Linked DNA regions of Homo sapiens: region 1 is linked to region 2. Evidence: fine-mapped expression QTL. Tissue or cell type: fibroblasts. Region 2 holds a variant in brackets; the other region holds the start of a gene. All regions are shown on one strand. Distances are between the middles of the regions.

Evidence for each region. PIP is the estimated chance that this variant, and not a neighbour inherited with it, causes the effect.
Region 1: it holds the start of GLUL, and the variant in region 2 is fine-mapped to the expression of GLUL in fibroblasts (GTEx, PIP above 0.99). The same link has a PIP of 0.9 or more in whole blood.

Annotation. Positions count from the first base shown.
Region 1 is chr1:182,387,164-182,395,163 of GRCh38, reverse strand. It overlaps GLUL (glutamate-ammonia ligase), which reads left to right and starts at 3,374. Exons shown (of 7, transcript NM_001033044.4): 1 at 3,374-3,485; 2 at 6,414-6,592; 3 at 7,872-8,000. The coding sequence starts at 6,427. RefSeq lists a silencer at 2,959-3,638.
Region 2 is chr1:182,140,719-182,148,986 of GRCh38, reverse strand. No RefSeq gene overlaps it. Among named protein-coding and RNA genes, the nearest start is that of ZNF648, 83 kb to the right of the region's middle. RefSeq lists enhancers at 4,092-4,759, 4,760-5,428 and a silencer at 5,437-5,613. The variant A/G (reference allele first, on the strand shown) is at 4,565.

The sequences.
Region 1 (8,000 bases), 250 kb before region 2:
AAAGACAGAGAAAGGGCCGGGCACAGTGGCTCACGCCTGTAATCGCAGCACTTTGGGAGGCCGAGGCAGGCGGATCACAAGGTCAGGAGTTCAAGACAAGTCTGGCCAATATGGTGAAACCTCGTCTCTACTAAAAATACCAAAAAATTAGCTGGGTGTGGTGGCACACGCCTGTAATCCCAGCTCCTTGGGAGGCTGAGGCAGGAGAATTGCTTGAACCCGGGAGGCAGAGGTTACAGTGAGTGGAGGTTGCAGTGAGCCGAGATTGCGCCACTGCATCCAGCCTGAGCAACAGAGTAAGACTCCGTCTCAAAAAAAAAAAAAAAAAAAAAAAAAAAAAAGAGAAAAGTTGTTTCCTAATAGAGATAAGATTTGGGAGTAGAGCAAAATCCTAATACAAAGCTTTTATTTCAGGCAGCAGAACAACATTGAAGAAATACTTTTAATCTCAGGCTATTTCTGCAGATTTGGAACAAAATCTTTCCCTGTAATTGCTCTCCCACTCCACCCACCCCTTGGACATGGCAATTCTACTCTAAGAGAGAAAAATATGACTTCAAAGCACATGCAATGGAACCCCTTGTCAGCACTGATATGGTGTGTACCAAGAAACAGAAAAGTTCATGGGTTCAAGCATTCTAATGCTCTTTTTATGGTGGGGGTGAAGAATGGGGGCGGGTGGCAATTTAGGGAAGAAGGGGAAGGAGAAGAAAGGGCAGCAGACACAGCAAAGTCAAACTGGATGAAACAGGCTGTTTTACTTTTAACTTCTCTAAAAGTACAGTCTGGGTTTCTGCGGGTGAACCAGTTAAGGGTTTTCTTCTGCTTTTACTTCTCGCCTATGCTCAAGCCTCCCTGGTCAGTTCTTGGACTCATCTGCGCCCTAATTTCATCATTTTAAGTAAATGTGGGGCTGGCCAAGGAGGACAAGGCCTCTTGTTCACTCCTGAAAGAGTCAGTGGTCATGTATTATGTTCCTAACCCTTACAAAGCGTGCCCCTGGTCACATGAATGGATCAAAGCAAATCCATTTCCATTCTTGGAAAAGCAGCTCAAAGCACATGTTCTCTTGATGGTGCTGCTGTCACTTCTGTGTGGTTAACAAATATCATTTATTGAACACTCACCGTGGACACTACTGGGGGATATGACAATGAATAAACTGCTCAATGAGGTCAAGACATCTAGGAAGGGAAGCAGGCACTCAAATGGCAGAAATACCATAAGCCTGCAGAACCGCACTCACGCCTTACCATTCCGTTCTCTGTTATGTTTGTCATCCCCACCTCAGGGGCTGGTGGTGTGTGCAGCAGAGGCTCTGGCTTATGGTTCGGTAGTTTGGTATCTGGAAATGATTAATAACATCTTTTAAAATAAAAATATCACTTTTCTCCTCCTTTGCTCCCCTTCCTCGACCATTTAAACTCAAACCTTTACAGAAAGAGATGAAGACAGCTCACTGTGTTACCAAGGTTAAGTCCAGTTTGATATAATGAATGGTAAAGCATTACACTGAGTCAGAAAAGTTGTATTCAAAAGTCGCTATGGGGAAAGAAAGAATCCAATCACCTCAGATTATAGAACTTGGCCTATGATAATTATAATTGCTGTTTTCTAAACATTTACGATGCACCAAGGACTACTCAATCTCTTCTGCATGTGCTATCACAATTAATCCTTTTATGAGGTAAAAATGATTATCCCTCTTTTATTATAGACAAAGAAACAGGCTTCATGTGGCTAAGTGATTTGGCCAACACAAAGCTGGTATGAAGGGAAAGCCCAGATTTGAACCTAGGTTTACCTGACTTGCAGCCGTGCCTTTAGCCACCACAATGTAATGCTTCAAGGGGCAGCACTGAAATTTAACAAGGAATTTGTAAGGCACCTTACCCAATCCAAAATGTCACCAGTCTGAAACATCCCAAAAAACCCTGTTTGAGATGAATGCTGCATCTGTCATGTAAAAGCACTACAGTGTTATACACTCTTAAAGGAAAGGGATGTTGACCAAAGAAGCCAAGTTATGTGTGTGTGGTTGCAGGCAACATTTCTTTTCCACATTTGCGGTACAAAACATAACCAGAACAAACTTCTTCCCTTCCTCTTCCAAAGGCACTGGAAGCATAAATTCTTGCTCTTTAAACTGAAAGAAGCAATAAAATCTGGACACCATCAGGTAGATTTCAGGCACTAAAAATAGAATGATCGAGTAATAGTACGGATAGCAGTATCTACCTACCTACCTACCTACCTACCTATGTTGTGTCTCTAGGTACATTTCAATATTGTGTTCACATACACATTTTCCCAACCATCACGGCAAGCTGAGAGGAGAGGTATGTATTCCCATTTTCCAGATTAACAAGAAGCCGCACTTGATAAAGCAAAATCAGGGAGAATTCGTTAAAGGAATTTCTTGACAATCCCTGGACTTCAAAGGGGGCAAGTGAACACCTCGATTTCCTTTCAGCTGCTCCGGGGGCAGTTTGCACACAGAATTTCAAATCTAGTGGGCGGCTCCACAGGTCATTTTCGATGACCACTTTATTTTGCAGATGAGGAAACTTGGGCCCTGAAAGACCTGCCTAGGGTCTGGCCAGCAGTATGAGACAGGTCTCCAGACTTAGTTTCTACCGCCCTCCAGAATCCTCTCTGTAAAATTAGAGAAACAGCACGTTGATTTCAAATGTGAAATGGCAGAGTTCTGTTTATTTCCCCAGACCCAAGAGAGCCGGAGCGGGCGGCTCTTCCAGGCCTTGGGAACCCCGGCCTGTCCCCAGGCCCGCGCGGCACCCGCCCTAGCCCAGGCCCGCCCAAAGTTCCCTCGGGTCCCGCGCCCCGCGCTCCCTCTCAAGCTAACCCCTGCCCGCAGGAAGCGGGGCTCGGAGGCTCCCTCGCAACAAAAGGCTAAATTCGGTTTCCCTGGTTCCGCATTTCCCCAGGGAGCTCTCCTCGTAAAACTATTCCCCGTGAAGGCGGCAGGGCAGAGGTCCAGGGCGGGCTTTGCTGGGAGCCTCGGGACCCCGGGTTGGGGGCCGTGGGGCGGCACCTGGCGAGCTGGCGGGTGGGCGGCGAGCCGAGGCTTCCCGGCCTGGCGGCAACTCGCCCCTCTGCCCTCAGCCCTCCCGGCTCCGCTCCCTTCCCCCACGCCGCCCTGCCCCTCCCCCACGCCCCTTTCTCTTTCTTTCTTTCTTTCCCAGTTCGCTTGCCCCCACCCCAGCGGCGCCCGCCGGGCTCCTCGCCCAATGGCCGCGGGGCCCGGGACCGCATCAGCTGATCGGCCCGGGCTCCTGGCCGCTGGGAGCCAATCAGGGCACCGGGGGCGGCCCCGGGCCGCGGATAAAGGGTGCGGGGCTGCTGGCGGCTCTGCAGAGTCGAGAGTGGGAGAAGAGCGGAGCGTGTGAGCAGTACTGCGGCCTCCTCTCCTCTCCTAACCTCGCTCTCGCGGCCTAGCTTTACCCGCCCGCCTGCTCGGCGACCAGGTAAGCCCCCGGACGGCCCGGTGTCACGCAAGCGAGGCGCGCCGCCCCTGCTACCCCGCGAGGCGCGCCGCCCAGCCTCTTTTTTCGGCTGCCTGCCCCTCCAGTCCCAGCCCTACGCTGCGGCCTCTCCGGCCCATGCCTGAGATCCGGCATGAGTGCTCCTCCCGCGTGCTTCCGCCGCTGGTGGCTTGGACCCGTCGGGGCTGGCGCTGGTGGGGCGCGCCCTTGGCCAGGCTCTGGGAAGGGCGGGGTGAGTTGTTTTGATCTTCTTTTCACTACTTGCGGCCGAAGCGCCGCCCCTGGAGGCCGTTGGGCCGGCCTGCGCCCTGGGGCTCGCAGTGGTTTGTTTGCGCTGTGGATGGAGTGGCGGTGCGGTCCCCTGTGGAGCGCAAACAAGGCGCTTGGTTGGCGCGGGCGCCTGGCTGCCTTCCTCGTGGTGGGGCCTTCGGAGCAATCGTCCTGGTTCTGGCGATGGTTGAGACGCCTCGATTGCGGCGTGTAACGGTGAGCGTTGTTTGGGCGGCCGGCTCCCGCCTCGGGGTCCCGGGGGCCTTCCAATGTGACCGAACAATGGAGAGCCCGGGCCTCGGCGCAGTCAGTGGAGAAGCCGGTCCGGGCGGAGGCAGCAGCAGCGCGCAGTCCCTACGGCCTGCGCCCCCACCCTCCCCCGGACCCCCCAACCCCTCGGCGGCAGGGTATGGCCACCTCCGTGAGGCCCTGAGATTCGGACGGGGGCCCGAGGGGCAGGGCGCCCACTTTAGGGACATTTCAGTGGGAAGGGGCTGCTCTCAAAGTGGATAATTATAACTCCCTCGGGGGCGGGAAGCGGGGATCCTCCCCCAGCCGCAAGTCCACGAAGAAAGCAACGAATGAAAATTATGAAGACAACGAGAAGTCAGACTCCTCCGGGTCGCGCTCCAGCTGCTTCGGCTTCGTCGCCTACTCTGTGAACTCCGGGGAGAGATCTCGAGTCAAGATTAAGACCTTAACCCACCAACCTGCCTGTTCGGACACCCCCCGGGCCGGCCGCTGTCTGTCCCCTTCTCCATCGCCCTCTCCCAGAAAGCTCCGGTGCTTGGACCAGCTAGAGTCTGAGAAAGAGGAGAGGCGCGAACGCCACTCCAAAAAGAGAAGGGTTAAAGAGGGCAACCCTAACGATACGCTTGACTTTCTGTGGCTGGGGTGAGTGAGGGGGCAGGGAGGACGACCCCGGAGTTGGTGGGAGCTGCAGAAACTGCTGAAAACTTCAGAATCCATTTCCCCCACGTAAACTTGGCACCGCAGCAGCAGCAGTTGATAGAGTGGCACTAGGCTGCTGGCATGCAACTCGGCTCACGGAAAAGAGCAAGAGATCCGAAACTGAGGCTTAGGACAAAGTGTGCATGATATTGGTGGTGTAACATGTTGGAGAGGACAGCCGAGAAATTGGGTTGTAGGTTTTTTTTTTTTGTTTTCCGACAGAGTCTCTATCTGTTACCCAGGTTGGAGTGCAGTGGTGCAATCTCCCGGCTCACTGCAACCTCTGCCTCTGGGGTTCAGGCGATTCTCCTGTGTCAGCCTCCCGAGTAGCTGGGATTACAGGCGTGCACAACCACGCCCGGCTAATTTTTGTATTTTTAGTAGAGACGGGAGTTTCATCGTGTTGGCCAGGCTGGTCTCGAACTTTGTACCTCAGGTGATCTGCCCGCTTCGGTGGGTTGTAGCTTTTAGCGGGAGCTAAAGGGTTCTGGGATGGAGGTGGGAAGTAGGATTTGGCCGGCTGAGTCTTCTAGAGGCAATATTGGGGTGTTGGTCTTCCCCAAGGGGAAGGGTGGTGAGGCTGAGGGAGAAGCAGTTATGTTTTCAGCTGGGCAAACATGGACGGTTGCCCGTAGAAACTTTGCCACTGTACTTCAGAACGTTGCCCTAGTCGTTGGAGGAGAACAATGTGTTCCCTTTCTAGCCACCCTGGTCCACGGAGGGAGGAGGGAGAGAGAGAATGTTTCCTCTTCGGCTGTTGTGGCTTGAGAGTTTCTCTTCTTTCGGAGGTTTTGTGGTAGTGGCTGGCAGTTATTAGTATGCCTCATGGCTTTTAAATTTCCAGATCTTTTTGATTTAGAAGTGGAAATTTCCTAATTACTTGACAAGTCTTGTAGAATTCCATAATGTTGTGATTCTTGCCCACTATCTTAAGTGAGACTTTGCATGAGACCTATGGAAATTATGGCAGCATTCCCCTTAGAATCTGGCTTGAATCAGCTTTTGTGTAGGAAACTGCTAGCCTTCTAAAAAAATATATTGTAACCTTGTTTCATCCTCAAATCTAAATGTGTAATGAGTTTTCTTTTGGTGGGGAGGGGCGGTGGGTTTGAGTTAAGACCACAGCTAGGATGAAAGACAAAGAGAAAAACAAACTGTGGAAGCCAAGCCTGTTCTGTGGCTGGATTTTACTTATATTGGAAGAAGTTCTATGTTTTGTAAATTTGTGTATTGGTTTTGATTTGTTTCCTCTGATAGTTTAGTATTTGGATAGTTTAGTGTTAACCTCAGCTACACTGAAGGAATAGACCTTAGTCCTCACAAGTATAAGTTCTAGCTTGGAAGCCTGGGTTCTGCAGTAGCTGTGGAACTTAAGCCTGTGAGCTCAGGGATGCAGAGGCATTGAGTTACTACCAAGGGCCTGATCTTTTCTTTAGCAGGCATCTGTGTTAATTGTTTCAAAAGGTGGTGATCAGTTTTACAGCCTATTATAAAGGAGATTTTTGCCTACTATAAAACTAATCCCCCTGAAAGAGTGAGTAAACATAACTTTTTGTGTGTTGACTTCCACAAGGGAAGGAGTTGGCACTTACACTCTGACTTTTGATTCAGTCGTCCTTCTTGAGCCATTTTTGCAGGGGATCAGTTTGGAGTGGGCGTTAACAATGTTATTCTTTTTTTCTTCTCCAGAACACCTTCCACCATGACCACCTCAGCAAGTTCCCACTTAAATAAAGGCATCAAGCAGGTGTACATGTCCCTGCCTCAGGGTGAGAAAGTCCAGGCCATGTATATCTGGATCGATGGTACTGGAGAAGGACTGCGCTGCAAGACCCGGACCCTGGACAGTGAGCCCAAGTGTGTGGAAGGTGAGACAGCAATGTGGAGTGGAGCACATGCTGGGTGGGATCTGCAGAGGGGTGGGCAGCAGCCTTTGACTCAGCCTCTGGATTAGGCCTCTTTCTTCTGTTTGTAAAGGTTTTCTAAGGCAGGGCTTTTCAGACTTTATTCAGTCAACATTAAGCTCCTACACTGCCTCAAAGCAGAGCGACGATGGAACCCTTTATTTCAATGGAATTGTGCACGTAGGCCAGTGTATTGAAGAAAAACTAAGTCTGGTTTATGGAGAGTTGGCATGGGGCTTAGAGGTTGCCGACCTGGACATCCCCACTTAGCTGGCTCTAAGGCACCCTCAGAAAACCACTGCTCTAACCTGAGAATGCCATCTAGTTTACAAACTCTTAGAAAACTGTGTTTAATACTCATATCACTGGCTTCTAGATGTGAAGCAAATGCTCTACAATGGTTTTTAAATAGGACTAATTTTTAGTTGATGCCACTTTTGGAAATTCTTAAACTAATTGCGTATCCCTCTAGGAGCTACAGTTAGATTATAGTTGTGACCTTCATTTTTCAGTCTAGAACAAGCCATAGTCTTCCCTCTTCTGGAAAGGGGCCAGAGGAAAGTATCATATCCTACCTAGTTTAGGGTAGTTTACTTTTCCTTTTTGAGTAAGTGAATGATCATAATACAAAGCCTATATTGTGTACTTGCTATGTGGCAGATGATAGTGCACAGACACTGAAGATACAAAGTGAGAGTCTCGTCTCTGCCTTCAGAGAACTCAGTCAGCTAGAGAGACCAAGCAGCCTTCAAAACAGTGGGAAAGGTGGATAGGTGATAAGGGAGCATCCTAGAGTAAGTCATCCTGCTAGTCGTCTGTTCCCTCATCTATAAAATAAGGACATAACTTGCCAGAATACACTGGGGGCATAAGAAGGATGCAACACATTACCTAATGGAAGAATCAGAATCCTTCACTATCTCAATATTTTAAGTGATTGATAGGATGGTAGTGATAACAGAATGCTTCAGCTTGTCTCCTGGAAGACATTTGGGAAGGGAGTATCTGATATATTTCTTTTAAGGAATTGGTACAATGGTCTTACTTGGAACTCAAATAGGAAGGGCTATAAGATCAGGTACAGGTGCCAGGGTATACATATTAATGATGGCATTTATACCTTAATGAATTCCTGGAAAAGAGATATTTAGAGATGGGAAGGTGAGTGAAGGGCTGGCTGTATTTGCATTGCTTGGAAAGCTCCTGTATGTTTTAAATGTAATTTTCCCTCTTTTTGCCCCAGAGTTGCCTGAGTGGAATTTCGATGGCTCTAGTACTTTACAGTCTGAGGGTTCCAACAGTGACATGTATCTCGTGCCTGCTGCCATGTTTCGGGACCCCTTCCGTAAGGACCCTAACAAGCTGGTGTTAT
Region 2 (8,268 bases):
GCAGCCCTCCACCTTTAGAGCTTTCCCTAATAACCTGAGGACTTCCAGAGTGAAGCAGGAATAGGGAGGCAGTGAGATGTAATAGGAAGATCTTCCCAGAGCTGAGATGTCCCAGGTGTTCAATGAAATATTTTGGGTTTGGTAGAACATTTTTAAAAAATATTTTTGAACATTGGCACTAAAAATAAAACCCAAACTCATCCCTTCTCCTTTAGATTTTTTCCCAGCTCCTTTGCACCAGACATTCAGTAACTGATACTCCTTGAGCATCTAGTATGTGCTGGGCACTATAATAAGCTCTAATGAAACAGAGAAATCAGAGTTCTTGCCCATAAGGAAGGAGTATACAGTCAAAGAAAATTCCAATTATATTTATCATTTGCTCACATACACCTTAGAGACCTACTATGTGCCAATTCAGTTTTTATCAAACATAGTCTACCGGCCTAACCTGATAAGTTTGCTGGTAGAGGAAAGGAGGTAGGAAAGTTGGTGCCTGCCACTGAGGGGTAGGGTTTAACAGTAATAGGAGAAGGAAGTAGGAGGAAGGAAGGATGGGAATCGGGTAGGGAACCACGGTGTCCTCCTCTTGCCTGGGGCCATTGGAGACCCCCCACATGCTGTTACTCACACCCATGCAAGGGGCTTCTTTGCTCATCATCTGGGTTTCCAGGTAGGGCTGGGCCAGCAGAAATCTATAGGGGCAGAACATCCCACCCTGGTGCCTTTCTCTGAGGCCAGGGCCCATGGGAAAAGCTAAGGCAGGGCTGTGGCCTCAGATTACACTGTCACTCCCACGAGGCCGAGGAGTTTGGAGAACAGGGTTCTGGCACCGAGGAAGGCCTCTGAATTCTGTCTCAAACCCATGATTAACACTGTAATCTTAAGTCACTTGACCACTCTGTGCCTCGGTTTTCCTCAGCCGTAAAAAGGGGAAAGAGTACCTAAATCATTGGGTTACTATGAGAATTAAATAATTTAACCCTGCATAGCATATAGTTCATGCTCAGCAAGGGGTCACTGGCCCAGACAGTACACCAAGGACCCACACATGTGTCTTCTAGTCAAGCAAGCGTTCAACCAGACTCAAATTTTATCAAAAACTATTGTCATTATCTGAAGCACATGGTAATGAAGTCGTCTGAATAACTAGTTCAAAATTGTTTTGAACATAGTGATCCTTGGAAAATGAAAAAAATATATAAGTATTTTTCTAAACTGGAATGTGGCAGGGAGTAGATTAGGAACCCACTTTCCATCACTTTCCAAACATGACCAGATTTAACTGGACATATTCTGACACTCCATCCTGGAGATGGCTTCTTTAAGGAGCAGTTGTTGGGCAACAGCTACTTTCATCATTTTGGTTAGAAACTAACCCTGAGTAACCAGTCTTATGAGAGAAAACAGTTAATGTCTTAAAAATCTTTCTGACTCCAACTCCAGTGAGTAGGAATTTTAAGTCATGAATACTACTAATTGTAATACCCTGACTACTGATTATCATTATAGCTAACATGTATTGAGACCTTACTAAATACCAGGCACTGTCATAAGTGCTTTGCATGCATTAACTCATTTAGTCATCAGAAATAACCCCCAAATTGGTGTTATTTTCATTTCTGTTTGACAAACAAGGAACTAAGGCGCACAGATGTTGAGAAACTGACCTGTGGTCACACAGCTACTCTGCAGGCAGCTGGTACTGTGGCTCCTACGTGTAACTGGCCCTAACAGACATAGCTCCTCGCTGTTCTCTTAAACTTAGTACGTGGGGTTGAATATTCCTTTCTTATGGAAAGATTACAGTTTCATTTTTCTCAGTGAGGAAATTATTTTCATAAATTGATTGGATTTATTCTACACACAAGGTATTAGAATCAACATAGTTTTTTTTTTTTTAAGTTTCTATGTTTCCATTTTACTTTTTTTTTTTTTTTTGAGACAGGGTCTGGCTCTGTCACCTAGGCTGGAGTGCAGTGGCATGATCCCAGCTCACTGCAACCACTGCCTCCTGGGTTCAAGTGATTCTCCTGCCTCAGCCTCCTGAGTTGCTAGGATTACAGGCATGCGCCACCATGCTCGTCTAATTTTTGTATTTTTAGTAGAGACGGGGTTTCACCATGTTGGCCAGGCTGGTCTCGAACTCCTGACCTCAAGTGATCTGCCTGCCTCGACCTCCCAAAGTGCTGGGATTACAGGTGTGAGCCATTGTGCTTGGCCCATTTTACTATTTTTATGCTTACTTTGTATCTACAGAAGTGATATAGGTTTTGCATGTAAAGTGAAATTATCACTTTTACTTCTGAAACAAAATGATTTAAGTCAGAAAGTTTGCTTACAGGAAAATTAATGTAGTATGAAGCAGTATTACCAGGTGTCTGTGGGTGTGGTTGTGTACCCTGAGGGTATGGTACCGCGGGGCTGGTATGTGTACCCTGAGGCTTGGTGAGCACCTGGTCAGTGAGCCGGTGTTTGCCTGGACAAGTCTGAGCTGCAGTTGACACAATGGCCATTGGCCAAACTGGTGGAAAGTTTCAATGACAGGTAAACAAAAGACTGAGGACCAGGAGGGGAACAGCCAAAGAGGATGTAGGTATTACAAAGGAGAATTTGGGGAACATTCTACTAACCCGATAAGTAGCCGTGTGTTCAAAAATGTCTTTTGCCCTTCCCTGAGCCAGTCTTCCTTCAAAATGTTAACAATACCACTGTTTCTTTCATTCCAAGAAGCTTGATCTTCACACCTGACATTTCAGAGATCCTGTGTCTTACAATTGATGTGTATGTTTAACAGAGAAACATTTTTCTTCTCCTTTCCCCCTAAAAGCTGTTATTAACTCGCTGCTGTGTCTTAGTCAATGGCTTCTTAGAGTCTAGAAAATACAGTAAGAGTGATGTACGAGAATACGTGGTTTTGAATGTGGTGCTTAAGATACATCTTTGACTTAACAATTGCCTTAAAATCCTACCTTAACAAAAATTTAGCTCTTACTTTCAATTTTGATTTGCTTTTGATTAGACACAAGTAAGGAGTGAAGCCAGACACAAACCCAGCTCTTCTCATTTGAAGTTCAGAATTCTTTCCCCTGCATTCCATAATTTCTCCATATTTATCTCAGAGGACTATGCAGAATATGACAGTGGGTTACCATGGAATATCTGGGCAAGGAGCTCTAAGAGTAAAACTCCAGGCCAAAGACAAAACAAGTATTCAAATCCCAAGGCATCTCTGTGAGATGACAGATGCTCTTGTCTGCTCTTCAGATCCGAGGGGTTTCCGGAGGGCCAGCAACCATGCCCCCAACACGTAGATGGCTTAGCTTGCCTAAGAAGGGCGGGCATTGTAGAAATCTGGACAGTTCTGCTGACCTTCCTCTTTCTGTCTCCCCACTCTTGATTTTTTATGTTAGTCCCCATGGCACACCCTCTTTGTGAAGTCTCTCCAAATGGAAGCACAAGCTCTCCCGAAGGATCCCACACCCCACAGAGTGATCTCTAGGGTTGCCCATAGCAACAGCTGGTACCATGGAAAAAAGCCTTCCTTTCATCCGTCAGAGCTGGGCAGTAGGACCCTCTCCCAGGACCCCAGGAACAAGGTCTTTTTCTAGCTCTGCTATGGAAACTTGGGTGACACACATCACCTCTTGGAGCCTCAGTTTCCTCATTTACCAAATGAGGCTGATGTGAAGTCATTTTAGAGTCCCACTGAGGACCACTACTGTGATTTTCCTTCACCAACATGAGATACATGTGGCTGGTTTCAGGCTCTTTCCTGAAGCAGATCTTAGTACTGGGGAGGATGGACGGTGATGTCGCCACTGAGAGTGATGAGAGAGAGCAGACCCACCACCAGCTGCCCTCCTGATCCTTGGAAGGCCAGTCTCACATCTCAACATTCCCAGCCACCTTGTTACCAACGCTTGTGGAAAATTTGATTTGGACAGAAGGGACTCCAGCCCCTTTTAAGTATACATATGCACATGCTTTAATTATTAACTGCTTAATGTTGTCATTGAAAATATTTATTTTAATACTACTCTAAAAGAGTGAACATTTTTCACGTATTGACCCACAGCTGATTTCTTATCTGCTGTTACCAAGAACAAGAAAGGAGAGAATAAAGCTGAGGAAGGTGGCAGGCTCGATAAATGTTAGATTGAACTGTTCTTTTTCAGTGCATGCCCTGCCCTTATCACTGATATTGCCATTTTCTACTTTCTTTTTTTTTTTTTTAAAGTGTATTTTGAAGGCAAATAAGAAAAGAGAGCTATGGTGTAGTCTGGAAAACCAGGGTGTTTACCGTTTAGAGGAACCAGAAGTTCATAAGGGCCTGGCTGGACTAAGAAATGACAGCTCAGCACAGGGAAGGGGGGAAAAAAACCAACAGCAGCAGCAGCAGCAATGCAAGAACAAAACATTTTAAGAGATCTGGCCAGAACTGGTCTGTACAAATCCCCAGCTTGGCCTTCCTCCTCCACTCCCCCTGGCTCCCAGGCCTGTTTCCCGGAGTAGTAGCAGCCTTGCCTCCCCTTAAGAAACCTGCCCACAACTCACACTCCCT[A/G]CATGCCAGTCATGCACACTCGTGTGTGTCACACCCTCTGCTCATCCCCCCACCCACTGAAGTCAGACCATGTGTGAGGGAGGATGAGAAGCCGGGGAAGAGGAAGACAGCTCAGCTGGCTGGCCCTGGCCCCTGAAGAAAACAAGCAGAGGCAGGGAGGGAAACATACTGTTCCCTGCAATCTGATCACCTCCGTGCAAGCCTCTGGGCTACACACCCAGGCCCAGGCCCAGAGGCCACGCTAATGAGACCAGGCAGGAAAAGTGAGCTGGTGACTGTTCCTGGGCAGATTAGAAACACATTGTGGAGAAGTGGGGGCACGGTGAGGGTGTGCAGGGCAGTGTGGTTGAGGCTGGGTGTGGGGCTGGGGCATGCGGGCCCAGAAAGGAGCAGAAGAAGGACTGCTGTCTTTCTGAGCTCTGATTCCAGCTCCTGGGGTGGCCCCCTGGCAGCTGCTGAGGCCTCACAGTGAGAAATCTGGAACAACAAAGGCTCTGGGACAAAAGACTCTCTGGCCAGAGGGGCTGCTGCTTTACAGGGGCCAAAAGCTTCACTTCTGAGGGGCACGTGGGTCCACCAGTGTGGGAGGCTGCAGGCTGAGAGGCAAATGGGGTTTATTGAGGAAAGGGAACAGATGTTTATTGGGCATTTGCTGGGTGCCCCCATTAAGCTAGGCTCTTTTTATGTATTTCACTGTGTTTGAGATCACTGTGAAATCCTCACTGCATCGGAAAATGGGAAGCAAATAGCTTTTTTCTTTTTATTAGGTCAGTGACACCTAGAGTTCGCCCAATATCACATCAGTGCCATTTGTTTGAAAAGTTAACCAGAGGCCAGCTGGGATTTTTGTCACTAGGAAAACAATGTAGCATGCGCTTCTTTAGCTTCCAGTCCAGGCAAGGACCTTCGGGGGTGTGAGGATGGAAGTATGTCTTCATGCTTTCTCCTGTGAGCCGCCAACCCACAGAACTGCTGGACCCTCAGCCCTTCAAATCCATCCTCCGGGAAGGTGCCTCTCAAACCTGCAGGGCCACCGCTGAAGTTCTCCCACGGACTCTACTCTAGCGCCCTCTGGTGGCCACCACTGCCAAGCCTGGTTGACTTGACTGGGAATTTCTGGTTAATAGCAGCTACGTTAATATCACTTAGCCCAGCTTTGTGAAGGTTCACTTGTGCTTTTACTTCACCTCTGATTTCTGCGTTATCATTACTCTTTCCATGTTTCCACAGCCTTTGTCAGTTCTCTGCTGCTTCATCTACGTTATTTTCATGGGGACCTGTGTTATTTTCATGGGAACCCCAAAATCAGGGAGATGTTTTCTTACCAAGATCTTTGTTTTGTACTATATTGCCAGTGGACCAACTTCGTTTTATTGGAATTTTTTTTTTTATTTTCTGGAGGATCTTTCTCCCTTCCTCCCCTTAGGAATTCAGGACACATTTCTGAAAGACTGGTTTTACTATGTGAGAAGCACAATGTTGTATACTATTTGAATTTGAGCTTCCCTTGTCCAGGGACGGAGTGTGGGCATGCCACCTCTGTTCAGTTATGGGGTGAGTTTCTTGGCCGCCTGGGACCCCTGCCTCCCGCCCAAGAATGCAGGTGAGAGCGTTTGCCCCTGGTTTTGACCAGGATGCCCAGTCCTGGTGTCTGAATTCCACCCATGAAGCCTGACCAAGCACAGTGGGAAAATCAGCCTATGGCCAATGGACATGGAGGCCAAGTTTGAGGGAGAGGGAGTTTGCCCAGAGTGGCAGCTGCAGATATGATCTGAAGGGTAAATGCTCACTGCAAAACAGGAGGGGAGCCAAGGTCAGAACCAGAGAGGCAGGGTCAGGCAAAGGGCATAGAGAAGAGCAAGAAGCTAGAGAGAGGAGAGGAGGCACACACACAGTTGGGACCAAAGAGGCCAGGTGAGATCTGGGAGGGGATGGTGAAGAAGCACAAGGCAAGGATGCCAGGGCTCTCATCAGGGGCCTGCTGTGTGTGGCATGGGTCTAAGTGGGTAAACCACAAGTCTGCAGATCTGACCTAGTTCACAGAGCCAAATGTACTCTCCAGATGTCAGGTTACTGTTTCTCCAGGGAGGCCCGTCAAGACCACAGGTAAATAGAATCCCCAGTAAGCCAGCCCCATGGCACAATTCCATGGATATAGAGCATGGGTATCTCTGGGGCCTTTGTCACACGAGTGTAGCTGGTGGATTAGCAGGGCCTTTATTTATGTCGGGCTTCATTTACTTGTTAATTTGTTCTTTAATCATTTATTCACTTCTATTTGACCAATGTTTTCAGGTGTCTACTGATGTTCTAAGTAAAATCCTGGGTAATGGAGCAGAAAGACAAATAAGATATGGTTTTGACTATTGTAAAGTCTGGATTTTCTGATTCAAAATTCAGTATCCCAGCCAGGCATGGCGTCTCATGACTGTAATCCCAGCACTTTGGGAGGCTGAGGTGGGCAGATACTTGAGGTCAGGAGTTGGCCAAGACTAGCCTGGCCAACATGGGGAAACCTGGTCTCTTTTAAGAATACAAAAATAGGGGCCGGGTGCTGTGGCTCATGTCTTAATTCCAACATTTTGGGAGGCCGAAGTGGCCAGATCACCTGAGGTCAGGAGTTCAAGACCAGCCTGGCTAACATGGTGAAACCCCCATCTCCACTAAAAAATACCAAAAAATTAGTCAGGCATGGTGGCAGACACTTGTAGTCTCAGCTACTTGGGAGGCTGAGGCAGGAGAATTGCTTGAACCCAGGAGGCAGAGGTTGCAATGAGCCAAGATCACGCCATTGCACTCCAGCCTCAGCGACAGAGCGAGGATCCGTCTCAAAAAAAAGAAAAAAAAGAAAAAAAAAGAAAAAAGGCTGGGTGTGGTGGCACATGCCTATAATCTCAGCTACTCAGGAGGCTGAGGCATGAGAATCACTTGATCCCGGGAGCCGAAGGTTGTAGTGAGCCAAGATCATGCCACTGCACTCTATCCTGGGTGACAGAGCAAGACTCTATCTCAAAAAAAAAAAAAAAAAAAAAAAAAAAAAGAAAGGAATCTCTGTAGTCTCTTTGGCTAATCTCCAAAATCCTGCTTTAGGCTCCCCAAAGCCAAACCTTTGCCAAACCTTTTATTTGAAGCTGAGGTGGCAAAAGGATAACCACACAAATTCCTTGAGCTCTGCAGGTAAACAGCTAGGTCCAGGGAGGCTACAGGGTGACCTCACCCAGCCTCAGGTCATAGGCTTATAGTAAGCCACAGCTGCAGGTATTATCTGCACCTTAGAGAATTTCTCCAGGCTTCACCACCTGAACTCTGCTACAAACCCTTCCCTTCTCTGTGCTGTTTTCCCTGGATCATGATCCTAGAGTCTCCTTGCCTAGGTCCTCTGCTTTGATGATGAATCTCTGGAATGTTGCCCATGAATTTAACTTCCATTTTTCCCTTGGATCCCTCCCTCACCTCCATGCACTACATCCCTCTGCAAGATTCCTGGAGCCCCAGCATCTCCGGTTTCTAAGATACAGCATCCCAGCCTCTGTCTAGCTCCTAGGGTTCCTGCTTGTTTAGAGAAAAGATCAGGGTTGGGTTCTACAGCCTGAGATGAAACTTGGCTGTTTCCACCCATTGCAACACAGGACCCGAGAGCCAAGAAGGATGAGAACAAAGTAAAAGTTAGTTAGGAACAGGTGAAGGAGCTGGGTTTTTGGTAA